Regions from separate parts of the Homo sapiens genome. Here all the other regions are reported to be linked to region 1. The links are microRNA targets in miRTarBase. Many come from high-throughput screens and were not tested one by one. Region 1 holds a microRNA gene; each other region holds the end of a gene's coding sequence. Distances are between the middles of the regions.
The links. The annotated mature microRNA hsa-miR-5584-5p reads CAGGGAAAUGGGAAGAACUAGA and lies in region 1 at 2,259-2,280, shown strand. An mRNA with a match to its seed (bases 2 to 7 or 8) in the 3' UTR can be bound and repressed. Matches are read on the target gene's strand: a 7mer-m8 pairs with bases 2 to 8, a 7mer-A1 pairs with bases 2 to 7 and ends in A, and an 8mer does both.

Region 1 (4,347 bases):
CTTCCCTCCGGTTGAGCAGAGCCAGAGTTAAGCCTGGGGTTAATGCCCAGTGACACCTGCAGGTTGGCTAGTGTTGTTGACATGGGGCTGGGGGGAGGGGAGGGGGTGATGGGGGAGATCGTTGGTGGCTTTATTATGGAGAACTCAGCAGGCCTGGGGCCTTCTATTGTCCAAGTGGCAAATAAATAAATAGGAGAAAGTAAGTCTTCCCCATGGCTTACCGACGGGAGGTTAACAGCTGGACATGACATGACAAATTGGGCATTTTTCTTTGGGGACTGATCCTTACAGCAGCTAGCAGGGAGAATGAGAGAGAGAGAGGGAGGGGGAAGTAGAGAGAGCAAAAGCAAGCCGGAGCACGGAAGGGGCTAGTCACAGAAGTCAACGTGGAAGCCGTGTGTGCATGTACAAGAGTACGTGACCGGGGTGTACAGGAAACATTGCATCATGTTTTGGGCATTAAAAAAAAATACATGCAAGCATTTCACATGTAACGACTTCAGGAGTCAATCCCAGAACCCCAAAAGCTGGGTATCTGGCTGTGGGGGGAGATATCTCTGGGATCTGCCTTCTTGAACCCCTCCCCCGTCCTGCCAAATGGAAAAACCAAAAGGTCAACGCCAGCTCTGATCCCAAAGAATCTCCTTCCTCCAGATGAGTGGGATTACTGGGCAGTGGCGAGTGGTGGAGCAAGCAGCCTATCTCCAGCCTGGGCCCGGGGTGAGAACTCTTGCATTATGCCCAGTTGCCCGGAACTGGTCCCAGCTGGACAGCAGAGCATCCCACTGGCCTGTGGAGCTGGGGACAGAGAGCAGCAGCTCTCCCCTGACCCTGTCCCATCTTCCTCCTCATCCCCAGGGAATACCCAGCAAGAGGTCGGGAGGACCACAGGAGACAACCACTCCCAAACAATGATCTCAGTTGCCCACTGTGAACTGGAGCGGGGGTGGGAGAAGAACAGAGCAGGAGCAGACAGGAAAATGCTTGATCTCTGCCGGGGCCCCAGAACCATCTGAGCCAAGGACTGCTCTCCATCCCTGTCTTCTGAGGCTGTAGATTATAGTGGGTAGTCACTTGTGCTCTGGAGTCAGACAGACCTGGGATCACCCTGTTCCTCTTGTTCTTGGCCCTGTGATCTTGGCATGCTATTTAACCTCTCTGAGCCTCAGTTTCCTTATAGGTAAAATGGGACTAATACCAGTACTAGCCAGCACGAGGTTTTAATGAGTTCATGCATGTAAGTGCTGAGTGCAGAGTCTGGCACACGATAAATCCTTTATAAATGCCACTCAGCATTGCTCTGGGGCTAGCCAACCTTTTCCTCCCTGTTGCCCTGTGTTTTAAGATTGACTGAGGGCTCTATAGAACTGTCCTCCGGAGAAGGAGGGAAGTGCATCTCTAGCTCACCTTTCTGGAAGTTATCCTTTCAATCTCCAAAGGCTGGGCATGGATTAGCCTAAAGCCTTGTGGAACTTTGCCTTCCAAGACATGTTTGTTTCTAGCAGTGGGCTGCAAGGAGAAGCCTTGTGGCTGTGATTCTGCTCCATGCCCACTCCACGGCGGATGCCTGACCAGTGTTCCAAGGACATTTTGAAGGAAGAGAGGATTTCTGATTTCCAGGAGGGGTTGTTGTATGTCCTGGAATGCAATCTCTCCATTCTCCCACTGGGTACAGAGAAAAACCACAGGAAAATGGTGAGAAGATGCTGAATGAGTTAATGCAACCAGGAAATACTTATTGAGCATGTACCAAGTGTCAAGCATGGCTCTAGACCCTGGGAATAGAGCCACAAACAAAGCGGGCTAAAATCCTTGCCCTTGAGGAGCTTACGCCGTAGTTCTCTAGGAAGGCAAGCGGGACACCTCGGCGTTGCCTCCACCCCTTCCATGTGGCCATGGTCCATTGTGATCTTCTATGCTCTTCCTGTTGGATTCAAATCAGGCCTCACAGAAGAGCCAGTCACAAAGGGAACTCGGAGATGTGCAGGACAGAGAGAAGAGCTGACGGGACATCTGGTACCTTCGGTTGGAGGGAGGGCAGTTTCTGAGGATTAAAAGAAGCTTTATTGAAGGGAGGTTTGAAAGGAGAAGAATTGTGGAGAAGAAAGCTACTGTGTATTTCATGCTGATTCCATGCCATTAACTTTCAGGCACTTTACATCCATTATCTAATTTTATCCTCAGGCACTCAGCAAGGCAGTTCACGTTATTCCCACCTTGAGATTCAGAGGAGGAAGTGACTAATCCAAGATCCATAACAGGGAAATGGGAAGAACTAGATTTGAATCCAGACCTTTAGTTCTTCCCTTTGCCCAATTATGCTCCTTGTGGTTTGCTGGAGAAAGCCTGGCAGAGGGTGCAAGGGCAACAGTGGGGGTGGGGGTGCAGAGGCTAGGAGACCTGACCAGAGTGTAGAGGGGTTCACAGGGCCAAGGAGAGGAGATATCTAGGGGGCCTAAAGATGGGTGAGACCTCTGAGCCTCCCTAAAACAGCATACTGCAACCTCTTCATCAGAAACCCAATTTTTTTTTTTTTTTTGAGATGGAGTCTCACTCTTGTTGCCCAGGCTGGAGTGCAATGGCGCAAACTCGGCTCACTGCAACCTCCACCTCCTGGGTTCAAGCAATTCTCCTGCCACAGTCTCCCGAGTAGCTGGGATTACAGGCATGCGCCACCACGCCCGGCTAATTTTCTATTTATAGTAGAGACGAGGAGAAACCCTTTCTTGCATGTTCTCCTACCTCATTGCAAACCTTTCTGAACTGAGTGAGGGGCATTCTGAACCTGAGAGAGAAAGGGGCTAGTTCTCTGAAGATCATCACCAGACCATAGAACCAAAGTGGGTAGAAGGTTTGTAAAAGGAGGTGGAAGGTGTGACAAAGACAATAAGCACCCGAGATGACTCACACTGCTTGCCAGGTAAGCATGGGCTGCAGGACGTGGGAGGAGAAGCTGGCGAGCTCACTCTCGGTCCTGGTTCTTCCGGCCACCCAGCCTCTTCATGGCCAGTACCAGAAGGCCAGATCCCTGTCCTCCTCCCCAGGCCCAGAGCCATGGCTCAGTGGCCCCCCAGGCCCAGCCTAAGAGGTCGCATGGCTAGGACTTCTACCTGGAGAATCACCTCCACCGCAACATCTGAGAGCAGGAGCCACACAGGAGCTTTCTTCTTCCAGGAAGTCCCTTCCCCCAGCCCCCTGCTACTCACTCCCCTATATAATATTCCACGTTAGAGCTCATAAATGCTGCTGCGGGTCCCCAGCCTGATTGAATTTGGAAGCCATTGTTTACAGACGTCTGGCTGTACAGGGGGATTTATTGAATTTTCCATGAAATGTTGCTCCCCTAATGCTGTAAAAGGCAAGCAGACCACATCAGAGGAGCCCTGCGTTACAGGATCATGTTACCCCGAGATGGAGTGCTTGCTTCAGAGTCATTGATGCACCGAGCTCTGGCTCTGAAAAGTAAGACCTCGGGCATCACTCCTGACCCCTCGCTGGCACCCCAAAGCTGGGACTTCTGAGCCAGCTCTGCCCCTGCATTTCCCTCCACCCATGTCTGGTTAGTCTCAAATCCCTCTCCCACATCCACTCTCCTCTCCAGCCCACCTGCTATGGACAACTGCATTGCTACAGCAGCCTCTCCAGGCGCCTCCTGGCGGTCCTCTCTCACCTGCCCCAGTCCCAGAGTCATACCCCTCAAGGCAGATGACACTAAGGAGGGGTTCAGCAAGTAAATAAGCAAAGGAAGAGAAGGAAGCAGGGCAGAAAGAAGGGAGAAGAAAACCAAGGTGTTCATGTTGTCACACATTGAGAGGGATGCTTCCTCCAGGGTGCCTGGCACATTAGGCCCTGGGAATCTGTGGACACGAGAGCCCCCAGGATGGGAAAAGGCATTGCCAACAGCCCTGTGAGACAGAGCTGAAGTGAAGATGTCTCCTTGTGTGTGTCACAAAAATGCAACTGGACCAAGCCTTCCCCATTTTAAAAAACACATTCTTTAAACCCTCCTCACTCCTTGAGCTTCTGTCCCCTTCACTGCCTCACTGCTCAAAGGCTTTTTTATATTTAACCACTTCCATTCTCTCCACTGGCTCATTTCTGCCACAGTCCTTACCTCTTTGGTGAATCTGTTCTCCTAAAGATTGTTCATCCACATCTCCAAGTCCATGTTGGTGTTCACCCTTCTTAACATCTCTTCGCCTAACCCTGCGGTCACCCTCCTGAAACACTTTTCTCTCTCGGCATCTCTCATACCACCTCCTGGTTCTCCTTGCAGACAGCTCCTTCTCTGGCTCTTTGCCCTCCTGCCACCCTAAATAAAAGTAGGTGTTTCCCAGTGTTCTACCT
Region 2 (4,000 bases), not on the chromosome of region 1:
GCCGCCGGCACCAGAAACAGGACGAAGAGCCAAGTGAGGAGGCAGCCATGATGAGTTCCCAGGCCCAGGGGCCGCAGCGGAGACCCTGCAATTGCAAAGCCAGCAGCTCGAGCTTGATTGGGGGCAGTGGGGCCGGCTGGGAGGGCACAGCCTTACTGCACCATGGCAGCTACATCAAGCTGGGCTGCCTGCAGTTTGTCTTCAGCATCACTGAGTTTGCGACCAAACAGCCCAAAGGCGATGCCAGCCTGCTGCAGGATGGGGTCTTGGCCGAGAAGCTCTCTCTCAAGCCCCACCAGGGCCCTGTGCTGCGCTCCAACTCTGTTCCTTAGGACTGGCGGCTACCCCGCCACTGGCCTGTACACCCACCCAAGACTCCTGCAATGCAAAAATGTACACAAACCAAGCCCGGGTGTTTTCTATACTCTACCAGAAACCCTTCAACTACAATCTTTGCATGAAATGAAGAAAACCTTTTGACTGTTTTTTAAAAATCCTTTTTCTTTTCTCAAGTTCTAGGGGGCATTTGCACATATATTTGTACTCAACATTTCATGGGAAAGCGGCAGACCTGAGCTGAGGAACAGCGTGGGCAGGGAGGGAAAGACCCAGGGTCTGGACACTTCCTCCAACACAAAACCCTTCCCCACCCACCTCCTGCTCCCTCCCCCTCGCCCACCATTGTAAAATAATCAGAAACTTGTTCTATTTTGTGGCAGTGACAATAGTTTTATATTAAAAGAAAAAATACAGTTTTCATACAGCAAAATCTATACAATATCATTGTTTTATTTAATATAAAGATCGCTACCCACCTTCCTTCCATGGTTCCCACCCTCCACGTTATTTTCCCTTTCTGCAGCGGTTGCACTACAGGTAGCTACTGTGTATTATGGACAAATGAGAAATGAATTCTTTTTCTGGCTGTCCATCTATTTTATTTCAAATAAGGAAAAGTGTATTTGGATTTTGTGTAAATACATCTAGTGATGACATTTTTTCAATGTTTTTAAAAACCGTGTACAGTACTACATGTGGTAGAGCGTTTTCTCAAATTGTCTATTGTAGCAAAAATGTTTTTGTCGTAAACCTGTTTTGTCTCCTTTTTTTGTTCTCTTGCCACTTCTCTCCTCTTCCTCCTGCCCCTGGTTCCCTCCTCTCCTCCCACCCCCACAACCAGTACCAATGTACATAGTAATTGTAATGTTTTAGACTTTACAGAAACTTTCCTGTATTCTGTATATAAAAAACAAAAATACTTCAAATTGTTTTCTGACTGTCTGTCCTACCTGTCATCACCCTTAGAGGAGACCCTCCCCTAGATCTGGGTCTAGCAGGTGGGGGGCCTTTTGAACAGGTCTCATTCCCATAGGGAAGTTTGGTAGGGGAGGTGTTGGAGAAAAGTGAGCCAGGGTGGGTGGATGACAATGGAATGACATGGGTGCGTCTGCTGGCCCGGGGGGAGCTGTTTCTCCAGAGAACCCTGACTGATAGTGGAATCTAGTCTTGACCTGTCACTTCTAGTCATGTGATCTGCAGTCACACTTCTCTACAACTGCTATTCCTCATCAAAAAACGAGTCTGCTGCATTACCTTAATTCTCAAGTCCCGGGGACCTTCATTAAACCAAATTCCATGCTTTCCTCCCAGATCTTAGTGAAAAACTCTCCAGGAAGTTTTCCTGAGGTCAGCCTCCTCAGATGGAGAGCACCTCTGTGTATATTCCAGCACTGTTTGTGTAGGTGCATCTGCTTGTGTGTCAGGATTTTGCCTTAGGGATAGAAAATGAATATTCTACCCCCAGCCTCATCCCACAGCATCTACAATGGAAACCCGAATCCGCAGTGCAGCTAAATAGGAAACTGGCCCTGGAATCTGAGGTCTGTCCCTGACTTTCATCTGCCCATGCAGGCGTCATCACTCTGCTCCCGGTGCCCTAATGGGCTTTTTGAACTCCCTAAGGACAGAAACTTGTATATCTTCCACTCGGAATTTCCAAGTCTAACTACACTGCTGGGCACACCATAAGTGCCAAATACCAGGTTCTAAATTGTACTGAATGTATCAGGCAACGGCCTTCTGCCCTGGAATGGTCTTACCCATTTGTTCCTAGCCAGCCCCACCCTTCCTGCCATCATGGTCACTTGTAATTGAGTGATGGAGCTTCTCTGCCTGTCTCTTATCACCTATGAGAACCATTCCAAAGGCAAATTTCCTCCTGAAAGGCAATAACAGATTTTACTCTCTATCTCTTCCTGCTTCCCTTCAGCCATGGAAGGCACTAGTGGGGTTGAGGTAGGGAGATACAGAGGGGGAATGAAGGAGTGAATTCTGACACCCCTTAACTGCCTGTGCCACCTTTAACAGTGTCCTCTCTAGCCTGTGTGGGGAGAACACGGAAGAATCCTAGAAGCTGGGGGCTGGATGTGAAGATAAGAAAACGAAGGATTTGGCCCAGTGCAGAGGCTCACACCTGTAATCCCAGCACTTTGAGAGGCTGAGGCAGGTGGGTCACTTAAGGTCAGAAGTTTGAGACCAACCTGGCCAACATAGTGAAAACCCTTCTCTACTAAAATACAAAAATTAGCCGGGTGTGGTGTCACACACCTGTGATCCCAGCTACTCTGGATTCTGAGGCAGGAGAATTGCTTGAACCCGGGAAGCGGAGGTTGCAGTGAGCCGGGATCACGCCACTGCACTCCAGCCTGGGCAACGAGAGTGAAACTCCGTCTCAAAAGAAAGAAAGAAAGGAAAGAAGGAAGGAAGGGAGGGAGGGAAGGAAGGAAGGAAGGAAGGGAGGAAGGAAGGAAGGGAAGGAAGGAAGGAAGGAAGGAAGGAAGGAAAGGAAAGGAAGGAAAGGAGAAGGATTTGTGCAGAAGGGAAGGAAGGAGAAGGATTTGTTCTTAGAGGGAAAAGCATCTAGGACTAGACTCAAAGACACACGTGTATTCATGTACACACCTAACTTCAGAAGGGAGGGACTGTGCTACATACACCTCGAGTAAACATATGGAGATATGCAAGCACATGCACTGGCAGAGACTACAGATGCAGGCACATACCTGGAGGGACTCTGCCAGAATGCACACAAACACCTACAAGGTGCTTACAGGAGCTCACACACAGGATCCAGAGGCACGCACACAACCCAAAGGGTGATCCTCAGGGACATGGGCACATACACACCTAGAGATCATTCACATACAAGCGTTGCAGATGCATGCACATACCTAGCGTGCACTCACAGGGTGTACGTGGACACACACACCCAGGAGTTCACACAGGCACACACCTAGGGGGCGCTCCCAGGGCCCAAGCGCACACACTCACCTCAAAGGTGTCCACAGAGGCACACGCCCCCAGGACGCCGACGCACGCCTAGGGGGCGCTCGCAGGGCCGGCGCGCACCCGCACGCGCACACGCCCCTGCCCAGCCTCCTGCCCGCCTCCGCCTTCGGAGGCTGACGCGCCCGGGCGCCGTTCCAGGCCTGTGCAGGGCGGATCGGCAGCCGCCTGGCGGCGATCCAGGGCGGTGCGGGGCCTGGGCGGGAGCCGGGAGGCGCGGCCGGCATGGAGGCGCTGCTGCTGGGCGCGGGGTTGCTGCTGGGCGCTTACGTGCTTGTCTACTACAACCTGGTGAAGGCCCCGCCGTGCGGCGGCATGGGCAACCTGCGGGGCCGCACGGCCGTGGTCACGGGTGAGTGCGGAGGCGGGTGAGTGCGAGCTGGCGGGGCGCGCGGAGAGGAGGCCGGGCCGGCGGTAGCAGCGGCCCGCCGGGCTCAGCTCAGCTCGGCTCCCGCCCGCGGTCCGCAGGCGCCAACAGCGGCATCGGAAAGATGACGGCGCTGGAGCTGGCGCGCCGGGGAGCGCGCGTGGTGCTGGCCTGCCGCAGCCAGGAGCGCGGGGAGGCGGCTGCCTTCGACCTCCGCCAGGTGAGAGGCAGCGGGGGCGCGTGGGACGGTGAGCCGAGAACCCGCCGGGACACAGAGAAGCCAGCAAA
Region 3 (4,326 bases), 150 Mb from region 1:
TTGATAACATCTATAAGCTCTGGCTTTTTCATTTGCTAAAGAATAAAACAAGTACTGTGTTCAAGCTATATAATTGTAATGAAGATCTATTGAACTAGTATGTAAAAACATTTTTTTTTAGGTCATATAAATAAAGTTTGTTGACACCAAGGATACATAATCCTTTAGTGACATTATGTTAAAGTCACTTAAACTGTTATGTTAAACTCATTTATTCACATTTGCAGAAACTAATGTAAGATTTTTCTTATGCTCATGTGAATAGGAAATGGGCAAATATGTGTATATATATTGTTTTGGAATACTCATGAATGAGTTTGACTTTATGGAATTTTTAAATTATTACAATTATAATAATTCATTTCACCTTCAGATAGGAAAGAACTGCAAACCAAACATGATCCTTTCTTAGGGCAAAGAATAACTATGTAATTGTCCAGGAAAAGTTTGTTATAAGTCTCAAGTTATAAAACATAATGCTTTAGAAGTCTTATAAACAATGTATTTCAAGCCTTTCAGCTTGAGAATACCCTCTTAGGCACATTTTATTCTAATATAGTCTAAAACTGACTTTTAAAATTTTGTAACATACTATTTTTAATTTTTAGGCAAAAGAAAAACAGAACGCAAAGAAAGCTCAGGAAACCAAATGAAGATGTTTTCAGATATGTACACATTTCTGCTTCTGCACATATTTTCATGGAAACCATTATGTATAAAGAACTTAGAGCAACATCCTAATTGGCTCAGTGCACGTTTGGCAATAGTGCCAGCCTGTCTTGTCTTTAATGCATGGATTCATAAACTTCTTCCCTACCTGCATCATGTGCATGTAGTGCATATTAAATGAAAGTGATATTAAGAATGCTTTCCCAAATTCCATTATTTGACATTGAGTCTGACAACTGTTAGTTTTCTGGTTGTCTAACTACCATATGAAGCTAGAAAATGCACAAACGATATTCCTTATCTGTAATTTAAATACTTAAAATTTGCAATTGTCAGATCTTGATTAAACTGGTTGTCTTATTTCTTCTCATCATTAACGGAAAAAAAATCAGTATTTCTATCTTTGATATCTAAGTGTTTTGAGGATTTTAAAACTGAATTTTATCTGCTATACCAGTTATTTGAGAAAGTATGATTTTAATGTAAATCATTTAAAAAGGACAAAAGTATAATTTCCAGTGATTTTCACTGCTGTCAGTAGAAAAGTAATAAACATCTCAATTTTATTTTAGTAAATTTTCTTCAAGTGTTTGGGGTTATTTGTTTATGTATTAGAGAATTGTTTCAGGAAGGTCTGAGTATTATGCTTCAAAGCAAAATTTCAGGTTAAGAAGAAATTGTAAATCTTAAAGAATGTTGGTGTTACTCTCAATGGAATATTGTTTCAAGCTTGTAAGCTGTGTATAAAAAAACTGGAGGTCTGACAGTTCATGTTATCTGCTTTTTTAAAAAGATGGTAGTGGTGATGGGGGTCTTTCTATGCCAATTTGAATAAATTTCGTACAGCCTGCAGTTTTCAAGAGCCATATGTAATTTGCTCACAATTGATTTTTAAAAATTGATTTGGGAGTTGCTTTGTAATAATCTTCTGCTTCTAATCTTCCTTTGCAAGTCAGACTTTAAAGAAGACTTTATAAAGCTTTCTTTTTTAAAGGAAGTAACCTACTTTTTTCTTTATCAAGAATATTTCTGAGGTTGATACATGACTTTAACATTTTATTATTTATTGTAAAATCAATTTAGCATAATTTATTTTATTAGGGAGAATGTGTACCCATCTTCCAGCTTCAGCACATTTTTAAGGATTGTTTTTAAGCTTAGTAATTGTGGTATTAAATGACTTAGAACTAATGGAGAAAAACCTGATAGGAAATTGATAGAAAAACGAATGAAATATTTTTCATACATAATTTCAGTTGGAGGTAATGGAAAATATGTAGTCTCTCAGTTATTTGTGGGTAAATATGTTTTGCTGTTGATACAGTAATAATTATGGAGTGTTTTCAAAGCCATGATATAATTTTTAAAAATAGATTTTTAAGGAAGGCTCATCTTGATCTCATTCGTTTATTTCAGCTTAATTTATATATTCTTTCCTATTGAGGCTTAAATTTTGTTAAGCAATGTGAGGATTATTGTGGTAAGTTGTATTTAGTAATCAATACAGTGTGATACTGGCACTAGGATTGACAAATAAAGCAATGGAACAGAAGAGAGAGCCTGAAAACAGATCAACGTTTATATGATCACTTGATTTCGACAAAGGTGGCAAAACAATTCAACAGAGAAGGAAAGTCTTTTCAACAAATGGAGCCAGAATAGAATAGCTGAATATCCATATAGAAAAAAGTGAACAATGACCCCCTACCTCACAAAAATGACTTTGAGATGAATCATAGACCTAAATGTAATATTTTAAAAGTATGAAGCTTTTTAACTGAAAACAGATGATATTTTTGTGACTTGGGGGGTTAGCCAAAGGTTTCTTAGGTCACAGAAAGCAGTAACCATAAAAGATCCAAAATTAGAGCTCATCAGAATTGTCATTGAAAGTGTTAACAAAAGTAATATCAAATGACATTTGAAAAATATCCTTGTAAAATGACTATATTAATAGGTATAAGGATTTTTCTTATTAATCTAATAAAATTCCTTAATAGGAATTTCCATAGCTTAAGAGTGGTTTATTTTATCTGCATCTTCTTTGGTGATTGCAAATCCCTTGTGATACTTCATGATTACTTCTGTCTGTGAATAAAGAAGTGTGACTTGTCTGGGTGCTATATGTTGCTGGTTTGAAATTAAGTCATGAAGCTAGAGGGTAGAGAAAATGGAAGAATAAAGAGCAACCCATAAATAGATAAATGCTATTTGGAAAGTTTTTTTTAAATGATATTTTATAGAAAATCTTGCTCATTTCATATTTAGTCTTTTCTAAAATTTTATTTAATTATTGGGTAGGTGAAGTCGCTTCCATTCTATTTTAAGCCTTCAAAATAGCCAATTCTAAGGGATGTACTTCTGTTATTATCAACAAAAACCTTGCCAACAGCTGCGGCACTGGCTACTCTCACCTTATATGTTTAGTTCCCAAGATAGCTTGCCCTTTTCCGAACAGCAGTCAGCTCGACTGTGCCACTAAAACAGACAAATATTTGCTCGGGAATCACAACCACGGGGACTTGCTCCCCCAGTTAGGACCATGGTACATATTTGTGTGTATATTATGGTGTTACATGCAGATTAATACTTTCAATTAATCCTCCTAGTTGCCTGTAACGTTAACATTTCAAGATGCATTTAGATATTTTTATCCTGTAGGAGGATTTTGTTTATTTGAGGGAAAAAAAGGGCTTTTAATGTATTCTCCTCAAAAACCATTTAGAGAAAACAGATAAGTAAAAATAAAATTTAAATTACCATATTTCTATTTACAGGGATGAGCACATTAACATTTTATGTATTTAGTGATCCTTTTTCCTCATGTGTACACATATGTTTTTGTGTGTTAGTCTTGCTTGCCCTCCCCATAGTCTGAAATAGTTCTATGAAGTTTATATTATTTTTAAACTTGATCATATACAAATTTTCAGGAAACAAACCACTCTAGCTATTTGAAGAGGAATGCAGATTTATATTGGGAGTTTTGAAACTACATAGTTTCTTACAAAATCATTGGAAGGTTTGGAGGAGCGGTTTCAAGCTTAAGTCTCCAGAGATTACTCCCATCCAAACATACAGTATTGGTGTACCTAGGGAACTGCTCACTTTTGCAACAGTCAGGGAGTTCACTGTTGGAACTATTAATGTTAGAACATGTTGCAGTAGTTGTGTTCAAGGAATGAGGAACCTGCTGTAACACTTAATGACTGTGCACTGGAATGCAGAAAAGTTAAACCTTCTATGCCTAAATGCCTAAAACAGACAAACTGGATAGTTATATTTTTAGAATGATACTGCGTTTTTTAGAGTAGTATGAATTCCTAGATCAGTCAAACATGCATGTTATTTAGTTTGTTCTTTAGTATATTGTTAACTGGCCTAAATCCAATGACTGACATGGTAAAGATTCACCACTTCTAGCATACTGGGCACTTTTTATTTTTGACTTGATTACATTAACTTTTTGAAAACTATTCAGTGATTTATTCAGCCAATCTTATGAGGTACATCTGAGTTGTTCTAGATGCTAGAGGATAGTATAACAGGAAAAAGCCCCTGCTCTCATGGTGAGACAGATAATAAGTATGTAATACAACTTTTCAAATAGTAGTATGAATGGTAAAAAAAATAGGGAAAAGGGGTGGGAGGAGCTGA

Region 2: miRTarBase lists PHF12 as a target of hsa-miR-5584-5p. Seed matches in the 3' UTR shown: 7mer-m8 at 848-854.
Region 3: miRTarBase lists UCHL5 as a target of hsa-miR-5584-5p. Seed matches in the 3' UTR shown: 7mer-A1 at 810-816.

The regions. Positions count from the first base shown.
Region 1 is chr1:44,543,235-44,547,581 of GRCh38, forward strand. It overlaps MIR5584 (microRNA 5584), which reads left to right and starts at 2,259; the gene lies at 2,259-2,318. The region is part of intron 2 of RNF220 (ring finger protein 220); the gene reads left to right. RefSeq lists an enhancer at 2,476-3,002.
Region 2 is chr17:28,902,515-28,906,514 of GRCh38, reverse strand. It overlaps PHF12 (PHD finger protein 12), which reads left to right. Exons shown (of 15, transcript NM_001033561.2): 15 at 1-1,265. The coding sequence ends at 332. It overlaps DHRS13 (dehydrogenase/reductase 13), which reads left to right and starts at 3,436. Exons shown (of 5, transcript NM_144683.4): 1 at 3,436-3,697; 2 at 3,814-3,932. The coding sequence starts at 3,571. RefSeq lists an enhancer at 169-669 and a silencer at 3,214-3,843.
Region 3 is chr1:193,012,678-193,017,003 of GRCh38, reverse strand. It overlaps UCHL5 (ubiquitin C-terminal hydrolase L5), which reads left to right. Exons shown (of 11, transcript NM_001199261.3): 11 at 609-4,326. The coding sequence ends at 653. Among named protein-coding and RNA genes, the nearest start is that of UCHL5, 45 kb to the left of the region's middle.